2 separate regions of the Homo sapiens genome follow, and region 1 is linked to region 2. Evidence: fine-mapped expression QTL. A gene starts in region 2. The other region holds a variant in brackets. All regions are shown on one strand. Distances are between the middles of the regions. Region 1 holds the start of ZCCHC18 (zinc finger CCHC-type containing 18). Region 2 holds the start of SLC25A53 (solute carrier family 25 member 53).

The links.
Region 1: its variant is fine-mapped to the expression of SLC25A53 in testis (GTEx, PIP above 0.99).

What each region holds. Positions count from the first base shown.
Region 1 is chrX:104,107,696-104,113,071 of GRCh38, forward strand. The region is part of intron 1 of SLC25A53 (solute carrier family 25 member 53); the gene reads right to left. It overlaps ZCCHC18 (zinc finger CCHC-type containing 18), which reads left to right and starts at 4,828. Exons shown (of 3, transcript NM_001143978.3): 1 at 4,828-5,306. RefSeq lists an enhancer at 3,112-3,351 and a silencer at 4,549-4,778. The variant C/CAGAGATAGG (reference allele first, on the strand shown) is at 2,285.
Region 2 is chrX:104,154,606-104,159,981 of GRCh38, forward strand. It overlaps SLC25A53 (solute carrier family 25 member 53), which reads right to left and starts at 2,404. Exons shown (of 2, transcript NM_001012755.5): 1 at 2,273-2,404. It also overlaps a transcript of FAM199X not described here. RefSeq lists an enhancer at 2,178-2,477.

The sequences.
Region 1 (5,376 bases), 47 kb before region 2:
TGAGGCAGGATGATTTAGCAGAAAGAAAACTGGGCTAGGATTTGGCAGTGCAAGGACTCCCAACTATCGCACCTACCCCAGAAAGGCCAGGAAGCAGGTGGGGTAGTATGAGATACCAGCATTCTAAGTGAGTTTTATTATCAACTTGATGTGTGACCTTTAGAAATTCAGTGACATCTTGGAGCCTTACCCATCTGAGCTGTAAATGGAGCAGAAAGGGCAAAATAATTTTTAGTCATCTCCATACTGTATCTGTCAGAGGGGGGTGATATTGGGCATTCAGGTCAATAGTTGATAGAGGAATTGTACTTTTCAATCCCCAACTCCTTCTGCCATTTTTGTAAATCATTTTGGGGGAATAAAGGTGAACAATAATTGAGAAACATCTAACCTTAATATGTAATCCATTTTATAAATCCAATCCTTTCCATTTTATGGGAGGGGAGTTCGTGTTTCTCCCATGTATTTTCTGTTAAGATGCCAGGCTTTGGAAAGGGCAGACAGACCCGAGACTGAATTCTGCCTCTGCCACTTAGTTGTGTGACCTTGGAAAAGACATTTCATTCAGTCTCAGGTTCTTCAGCTACAAAACAGGGGTATTAAGATCCACCTCAAAACGTTGTGGCAGAGATTAATAACATAAAATGAGACAAAGTGGTTGAGAATCCATAACATGGTGGCCTTGATAAGAAGGATCAAAAAAAGATGCTTCTGGACTTCACTATCTGTCTCCACAGAACGCATGCTCCTTCTGGATGCTCTCGGGACAGCCATAACCAGATACAGGGGCATTTGGGAACAAATCTTCTGTTCCCAAGGGAGGCAGGGAAGCCCTTACTTCCACAAATAGGAAGGTGCAACATAAGCAATCTAGGAGAGCCTGGCCCCTTCACATGAATTCAAAGTATAGACCACAGAATGGACCTAGAGTTGGCCTTAAGCAGATATCACCTGTACCCTATGACCTGCCTCCTATGTTTACAGCCTAGTAAAATGAGCCCAGAGGATTCCAGACTCTCCCAGCCAGTCTAGTCCACATGGGTAGACTGTGTGACTGCCCCAGGATCCAGCCACAAATGAATGCATTTGTCTGTTCATTCAGGGCATCTCTCAGCCAGTCCTTTGGTCTGCTCACAAACATGTATTGATCATCCACTAAATCATTGTGGGTAAACCACCATAGAGCTAGAGTGAATAGAACTTGGTGCCTGCCCTCAAGTGCTTAGAAATCTAGTCAACTAGCTTGGGAGACAGGTCAACAGTGTGCTAAACTCTACAGAAAGACAAAATAAAGGGTACAGTAATGAAGGTGGAAGCAAAAAGACAACAGCAATTTATTCCACCTGAGAAGGGGCATATGACTCAATCCTTAATTGAGTAGAGTAGAATAGGCTGTTGTTAGGTAGGGGAGTGAGGGCAAGCATTCTAGGCTGAGGAAGTGGCCTAAGGCACATAGGCTTAAGAGTGTGAGTTGTGCATGGGGCTGGCCTACCCCATGTGGTGAGAAGGAAATAGAGCTGTGGTTGACAGAGAGAAGCCCATTTAAGATGAGGACCACATTTGTCTTCTCCGCTGCATTGTGTTGTAGGGCACAGAGATGGGCTCTGGATACAGGCAGCCCTGGGTTTGAATTTCACTCTGTCACTTCCTAGCTTTATAACCTTGGCCAAGTTTCATCATCTCGCTGATCCTCAGTATCCTTATATGTAAAATGATTGTCATGAAGGATGCATGAGACAAAGTATGGAAAGTGCTTAGCACAGCACCTGGTATATAAGTTGCTTCATAAGTTATATTAGCAGTTTCATTTTTTAAAAATGAGATAATAGGAATAAAGGCAAGATAACAATTAAATTGTTCTAAAGGCTGCAATTGGTCTAATGAACTGGGTTATCTACAGAATGCATTTTGGACTGCTTGTTTGGAAGGCAGCAAAGAAGAGTTTTCATGGGCTTTGGAGTTCGACATCCCTGGCCTGCAGTCTCAGTGCCTCCACTTACAAGTTGTGAAGCCTGACACAAGTTACTTAATGTCCCTGAAATTCAGTTTCCCTTTCTGCAAAATGGGATACAATAGCTGTCTCAACAGGGTTGATAAGAAGCTTAAAAGAGATAACAGACAGAAAGTTCCTGGCACAAAGGAGGCAGGCAGCCAAAGGCAGCTATTATTGTTTCAACTGAAAGCTTTATCTCCAAACCTTCAAGCTTTTAAGGTTTATTTGTTGAAATTAGAAAATGTGGTCTCATTAGAGGCATCAGTTGGAACACACTCATACATGTGAGGC[C/CAGAGATAGG]ATGTCCTGTATCCAATTGAAGCCAGGTTGCAAATACTACCCCCATCCCTGCATGAAGAGTCCCTCGCTTTGTTCTAGTAGCCCAACCCTGGCACCTTTACACAATCCATTTCCTGTCATTATTTTTGTCTGAGCTCTGACACCTATTCTTGGTCCTATGTGATTCCATCCCTACCAAGTCCAGCTGCAAATACCTAATTTGGTGATAAAGCCAATTTAAACACTGAACAAGACTCTTCTGGGAGGTAAGGGTCAGATGTCACGGGATGGGGGAGCAGAAGCAAAAGTCTGAAGGAAACCTAAGAGCAACTGCCAGCATCACCCCTAAGTGTGTGAGGTGAGCAACTTGCCTTCTCCATACATCCACACTTTCCAGCCTCCACCACCACTACCCCACTGTTCCATCCACAGACCATGATCCTGAGATGGAAGGTGCTTATCTCCAAATTTTTATTGTTTACTCCAAGGAACTCTAGATCTTGGGGTTGTAAATAAGAGGGCGGAAAGGAGCAAGTGAAGTACCTTGGCAGACTGAAGATGAAGCCAACAGCAGCGGAAGGGCATCAGACTGTTTACTTGCTTCTAAACATCAGGAGTCAAGAACAAGCCCCACAGAAGCCTCCTAGCCACACTATACATAAAGGAAGTAATACCTGCTCTCTAAGTCAGGGAAAAATGGAGCAGGTTTTCCAGCCACTGCCTTCATGGCCATTCACTTTGGACAGCCCTGCATGCCGTTTCCATGGAGTTGCTCCTTCTCTGGGGCCAGTGATGCCAAATCCAGCAAAGGAGAAGTACCCTGAAGAGCTCACAGAAGGGCAACCTAGCAACCTGTCCTTGAGCCAGGAAATGAAAGAGCCATATCAGCAACAGAGAGCTGTGGTTTGGGGGTTAGGTTAAATGGGGTTTTATTTCTCACACTTCTTCATCAAGCATGGCTTGAAGAAGGAAGACGTTATGACAGACCCATTTGAAAATCTGCAAAGCTGTGGGCTCAGAAGAATGTACGGAGTCCAGATTCTTTGCATACAATTCCAGGAAGGACCTCGGGTAGGAACCTGTGCTCTGGAGTTACATTTCATGACAGATATGCCATGGACAGATACACTGATGGCAGGCCCATTTACTTATAACCTTCAGCATCACGTGGTGGTGTTTAGAAAAGTGGTTCATGAATCTCTCTACACCTCAGAATCAACTACAGGGCTGGTTAAAACTACAAATCACACTCTTCACCCCTAGTCCTACTACATCAAAATCCCCCAGGGGTAAGGCCCAATAATCTACATTTATAACAAGCTCTCCAAAATGATTCTGAGGCAGCTCACCTTGTACTCACACTTTGGTTAATAGCATGAGTTCTGGATTCAGAGACTCAGTTCAAATTTTGGCTTCACCTTGTATTTTCAGACAAATCATTTTACCTCTCTGAGCCTGGCCTCTTTGGGGTCACAAAGGGCTGTCGAAATTATGTTGCTTTTATAAAACAGGCAGCTTGTTGTGTAAAAAGAAAAAAAAAGAAGAAAAGAAAAAAAGATTAATAAAAAAAATGAAAGAAAGAAAAGTACCAAGAAGAGTTTCCTCTTCTGTACAATGGGCACCATAAAGGTTGCCCTCATCTTCCCTCAGCCCTCTCCCCACTACCTCCTCACCCCCTCCCTCAGCACTATTATCACATTGAGACTGCTGTTGAGATGGTTTGAGACTACCTGTGCAAAAATACTCTCCAGGCAGCGCTGCAGGGCAACGAATTAGCATCTAGAGAGCAACAGACGGTGCTAGGTTGGATGCTGTAACTTATTTGCTGCAGGATACAGGCCAAAACTAGTAACCTGTCTCTCTCTGGCTCAGTTTCTTCATCTGTGAAATGGAGATAATGGTTCTTGCTCACCAATTCTATGCAATCCCAAGTTGGTCCTCCCATCTGGCTTTGGTTTTTCTCCACTATCCCTTAATCTGACAGAATAGAGGAGTGCTGGCAAGGGGCAGCCTTTGAAGTCAGACATGGTGACTTGGGTGTGAGCTCTTAACTCTGCACTTCCTAACTGTACTGCCTGGGTGCTTCAGTCCTTTCCTGTTAAATGGGCACACTACTACCTCCTTCACACGGCTGCTGAGAAGAGGAAAGGAGATGTCCATGCAGGCGCCTCTGCACACAGAAAGCACTCAGTAAACGCTGTTTCCCCGCTTCCCCCTATACAAAGGTGAGGAACTCTCATTGTTCACTTGGTTTCTGTCCCACCTCGTGTTTAAGGTATCCGGTCTAAAAGCCCGGAGGAGAGCCGAGGTGTAAGGGGATAGGGAGAAGGGAAGAGATGGGTTAGCAGCAAACTCACGGATGAAAGGGAAATGGGCCCAGTCCGTGCGTCCGAGCTGCTGACGCCGTGCCGCCTCCCGCGCCTGTCTGCCGCAGCCCCCGCCCGCCGGCCCGCCGGCCAGCCGGCCCGCTCCCCCTTCTTGCTAGCAGTAGCTTCGGGGCCGGAGGCTGTGCGGCGAGGCCGCCCCCTCGCCCCGCTGATTGGCCGCGTCGCCCGGCCCGTCACGCTCTTTTGTCTCAGTCGCCAGAGACTGAAAGCAACCGCGGCTGCCCGGAGGGCCGAACTGGAGGGTGGGCGCAGCCTTGGCTGCCTTGGGAACCGTGCTGCCTCGACTCGGCTACCCCTCGCTGGGCGGTCGTGCGCACTCGCTAGGTCGGGCAGCCCCGGGTCGCTTAGCGGCCGAGGAGGCGGCAGAGATCCCGTTCCCCTGCAGAGCTACGGGGACCGGAAGGCGAAACAGAGCTGTGGACGCGGGAGCACATGCTGCCCACCAGTGGAGCACAAGTAAAGAAAGAACGCGCGATTGCCCGGCGCGGAGAGGGGTGGGGGAAGCCCCGCCAGGACTGGGCGGCGCCCGGCTTGGAGAATCAGTAACTGCGAGGCAGGGGATGGAGCACTCCCTTGGCCTGGTTGCGCTGAGGAAGGAGTTGTGGTTCATCTGGATGCTGCCGACTGGATAGGATTTAGGATTTGCCTGGATTAAGGTGGGTGGGGGTGTTGTCGTAGGTCGGGGGTGTTGTTGGGTGTCGGGGGCGGGGTGTGTTCGGGGAGGTG
Region 2 (5,376 bases):
ATAAAGCAAATGTGCTATACATACACAATGAAATATTATTCAGTCTTCAAAAATCAGGAAAATCTGTCCATTGATGAGCCTGGAGAACATTATGCTAAGTGAAATAAGCCAGGCACAGAAAGACAAATACTTCATGTTCTCACTTGTATGTGGAATCTAAAACAATGGAACCCACAAACACAGAGAATAGAATGGTGGTGATATTTCAAAATTTCATATTCCAAAAGAGCTAAGAGTACATTTCAAATGTTAGCACCACAAAAAAACTATTAAATTCCATGTTGAGTCATTTTTGTGTAAAAAAAGATAAAATTTTAGGTGATGAATATGTTATTTACCTTGATTTAATCATTCTACATTGTATATATATAAAATACCACTTTGAACTCTATAAATGTATACAATTTGTAAATATACAATAAAATTATACAAATATAAAAATAAAAAGATTTTCTAAGCAGTGTCAAATAAGTCCATTTTATTTCATATCTACTGTGTCTGAATTCAGACATGCCTGACGTTTAGGAGTGTGCCTAGCCTTCCCTAGGGGAGATATTCTTTTTTTTTTTTTGAGACAGAGTCTCACTCTGTTGCCCAGGCTGGAGTGCAGTGGCGCAATCTTGGCTCACTGCAACCTCTGCCTCCCGGGTTCTAAGAGATTCCAGGAGATATTCTTTCCAATTTATTGTCAGCTCCGTTTAGACCTATAGTTCTCCAAGTATGGCCCCATGTCCAGGAGTATCAGCATCTCCTGGGAACTAGTTAGAAATGTAAATTCGGGGGTCCACTCCTGACCAACTGTAGGGGCAACTCTGTGGATGGGACCTAGCAATCTTGGTTTTAAGAAACGCTCCATCTGATTCTGATTCACAGGAAAGTTTGAGAGCCACTGACTTAGACTGCTATACTGTTGTTTCTCTGGTAAACAAAGAGGCTTCTTTTCTTGTTCAGAGAAATATTGCTTAGGATTTCTGGTGGGTGCACAATTCCCTGCTGTGAACCGAGTTTGCTGGAAAACCAAGTAACTAGCACCTCCATCGTAGTCCTACCCAGAGCTTGCAGGCTTTGCACTCACGTAAGACTGATTCTTCCAGAGGCGCCTGGAAGTCCCATTGTGATGGGCAAATGCTCTTACCAGAAATAAACTAGTTGTGGGGACCGGGCGCGGTGGCTCATGCCTGTAATACCAGCACTTTGGGAGGCCGAGGCAGGCGGATCACTTGAGGTCAGGAGTTCGAGGCCAACCTGGCCAACATGGTAAAACCCCGTCTCTACTAAAAATATAAAAATATAAAAATTAGCCGGGAGTGGTGGTGGGTGCCTCTAATCCCAGCAACCCGGGAGGCTGAGGCAGGAGAATCACTTGAACCCGGCAGACGGAGGTTGCAGTGAGCGGAGATCACGCCACTGCATTCCAGCCTGGGCGACAGAAGTAGAGAGACTCCTTATCAAAAAAAAAAAAAAGAAAGAAAGAAAGAAAAAAAAAAAGAAATACACTAATTTTGGGCCTTAAATGCTACTCAGTTCTCCAGTTCACCTCAACAGGGAGGGAAGGTGCTTGGAGGAAAATTGCACTTCGTTTTTGCCCTGCTTATTTTGTCTTCAAAATATATGTTAAATCACCGCATCAAAGAGCCGTCCCAGATCTCAACTCCCAGATGAGTTCGGTGGCACCCAATAGATTTTCATAACACAGGATCTATCTCTGTCTCCTTGTATTGTAATAGCCTGTCTCCAAATGCAGATAGCAACCGGCAGGCTGTAAATGTCGAGGAAAAAGCCTAATTCCTTTCCTCATCCGGAGCCTCTAGTGCAGTACCCAGCACAGAGCAGGTACTTGGTATTTTGGTAAGGGAAATCAATCAACGCATCAATAGCAGAATCTGAAACCAGGGACCTAGATCTTTCCAATAAAATCATCCTGCTGAGATGTGACTCAGATGTACTGGTGCCCAGCAGACAACACGTTTTCGCCCTGATTTTATCCTCCATTCATCCGTCCGCCCCCTCCCCCATAGACCCCGCCTGTCCCCAGCTAAAAATAATGAGGGGATTCACACATCTCAGTGTCAACACACACAACACAGTTGACACGCCCCTTAATCCTACAGCTACGCCATCAATTCTCGCCGCCGGGTCCGTCCGCTTGTCAGTTTCCCCTACTCCTCATCCCCTCGCAACTTCTGATCCCCTATCACTTCCGTTCCCGTTTGCCTGCTAGGCTGGAAGCAGGATGTGTCTACGCCCTCAGCCCATAAGAAGTGCTACAAACCTCCGCCTCGCTCGCTGTCATGGCGGCGACCGACGGCCCCTTTCCTGTGGCCTCAGAAAGCAGCGACAGTCGCAGTCACCGGACCTTCGCCCATCCGCCGCCCTCACTTAAGCGACGCACAACGGAGCTCCCACAATCCTCTTTGCTTCCGCTCTCTTTATTTCCGCCTCCCCCGCCCCCGCCTCGACATTAACCGTTTCGCGACTACGTCAGTTGGCCGGTCTGTTTGGGAGAGCCAGGCGACTAATCTGGTATAGAGACCGAAAAACACAGGTAAAAAGACCTAAAAGACTTAGTCATCTATTGGAACATTTCCCCAGTTTGTTTGTAAGTTGGCTTGCAAGCTTATCAGTCATTCTCAAACAGGAGCTTAACTTACTTAGGTGAACAGTTCATGATGACGCCTTTAAGCTGCTAGACCAACCCAAACTCCGAATTTGCAGTTTCTGACCTTTCACCTTGAACCTGTGCCCTTTCTACCCTCTATTCTCCATCTCCTTTTGGTTCTTGTCTGACTCTTTAGCTGCATATGTAAAGAGCACAGACTTTGAAACCTGAGCTCCCGCGTTCGAATCCCCACTGTACCACTATCTAAACATGGCATCTTGGGCAAGTGATTCAAGCATGCTATTCCTTGGCTTTTTCATCTGTAGAATTGGTATAATAATAGTACTTACCTCCAGAGTTGCAGTAAAAATATTAAAATTTCACATGTGAGGAGCACCTAGAACATTGCCTATCATGAAGTTAAGCAGTATATTGAAATATAAATTATAATGATTGAATTTGATCTCACCTAAGACCTCTGGCTAATAAATAATAAATGATAATAATCATTTCACCTGGGATAGAGGGGATTGCCCTGTTCTCTCCAGGCTGAGGCTGTAATACCTGATTCTAGGGACTGCTGATATGGAAATTACTACCACTCTGGCTGGAGTCAGAAGAGTATATTAAAGAGTCTCTTTGTACTGTCCTAAAATAAGCAAAATCCAACGTTTGCAGTTCTATGGACCACGCACTATGATAAGTGCTTTAAACCCATTTTGTTGTTATTGCTTCATCCTCACAATAGCCCTTTGCTGGTTCTTAAGTGTATTACCCTTTCCTGTCCTCTTTGTCTGCTTAAAGCAGCTAAGAAAACTCAGATTAGTCAGATTGCATATAAATCAATAACTTGCCCACGGTCACAGAGCTAATAACAAATAGAGCCAAGACTTAAACTCAGATACATTCAGATGTGTCTTGGTATTTCTCAAATATCACTGAGAAAAAGGCCACCATAAATTCTTTTCAAGTGCTCTCTCTCCCCCAACTCCCCACCCCAAGAATTGCCTGAATGCCCATACAGAAAGACTAGGTTCTCTTCAGAAGCAGAAGGGCAGAACCCACTAAGGCAAAGATCTCTCCCTTGAAGGCTGGCAGCCAAGGAGGTGACTATAGTAGGAATTGGCATAACCAGCTCACTCATTGCCCTCCACTGTGCCACACAGGCCCCATTACTTCCTATAGTACTGAAGACCACTGGGGATAAAGGTACAGGGCCTTCACCTCATCCCACCGTTCTGTAAAGCTTGGATATTAGCAAAGATCTTGCTTATTTTAGGACAGTACAATGAGACTCTTTAATATACTCATCTGACTCCACCCAGAGTGGTAGTAGTAATTTCCATATCAGCAGTCCCTAGAGTCAGGAATTACTGCCTCAGCCTGGAGAGAACAAACCAATCCCCTCTGTCCCAGGTTAAAACAAAACAGGAATTCCCTCTGTTCCTTCAGAATGTACGGTACCCAGGATGTTGTTATTCTTGCTCCACACCTACCCACTCTCACTTCCCAACTTATCATCAGGCAGTCCACAATGGTTTTTTCAGGGGAAGGATTGGTGATGGTGAAGGGACTGAAGGAGAAGGTAAATCACCAGGTTTGCTGAAGGTAAATGAAGCACTGCCTTGTCCCTACCTCTGTACCTCTTTTGTAGCTCCCTGACCTTCTTTCTCATTTGGCATTTCAGAACCCATCACTCCACACCTAGGAAACCCTCTTGGGTTTGAATTGCAGACAAATCATCTTGTCTTTTATTTTTTCCCCCAACACCCAACGATAGCACACATGTCTGGGCTTGGCCAAATTTAAAAACAAAAATAACAGAGGTAGCACGGAAAGACTTTTTACTTAATTTTCTCCATTATTTCTAGCTGTCAAACTATTAGAAAGTGTCAGTGTAAGGGGTAGAGCTGTGAGAAGTCGAGTTTCAGAGGCGAGGAAAGAGAAAAATCCTGATGCAAAGCAAAAGTGTTGGCAGAGGAAAGACGAGCCAACAAGAGTGTCTCTAGGGCCGGTAGAAATAAACAAATGGTGGAGATTGGTGAGTGGGTTTCATACACAAAGAAACCTTTCCCTTTTAGCTCCTTTCACCCTACACACCATATCCCCATTCCAGAGACTTCATCTGCCTTAAATTCTCCTAACCAACCCAGTTCTTTCCTTGCTGGGCATCTTGCCCTAATGGCAGAATTCACCACCAGCTGCTACTGCTAAGCAAACTGGGTAGTTGAGGGGAGAGGATGTTCGTAAACCCAATGTTAGAAAGGGAGATGTGTTCCTAGCATCCTTAGTCGTACTCATAGCATATTTTTAGAAGCAATGCTCTACGTACATAATTTAAGTGTTCAGGTTCTGCAGTGCTTTCTTCAGTATGTTTCAGTTATTTGTTTCTTCAGAGCTGTTCTGGGGTCCTAACATATATATGACAGTGTTTCTATACCATAGTGTTTTACACAGCTGGTGACCAGTTCAGGCCCCCTTTACAAGGCAGATAGATCCATCCCCCAGCTGCTGTGGGTATTAGCTGATGAATACAGCTGCTTCCTTCTCTGCAGAATTGCACTCTGCAGAAGAGGTTCATTGCCTGGGAGATTTCTGTTTAATAACCCCAACCCCTACACACACAACCCTGCAGCCAAAAGCAATGACTAACTGATGATGAGAGTACAAGGGTACCTTGCCTCAAGGTTGACCAATTCTGTGGTGTAAATCCTACTCCAGAGCTCCTCCTGGGATTAGGCTAGAGCTTGTTTCCAGCGAGCTTAGGTTTTTTCCTC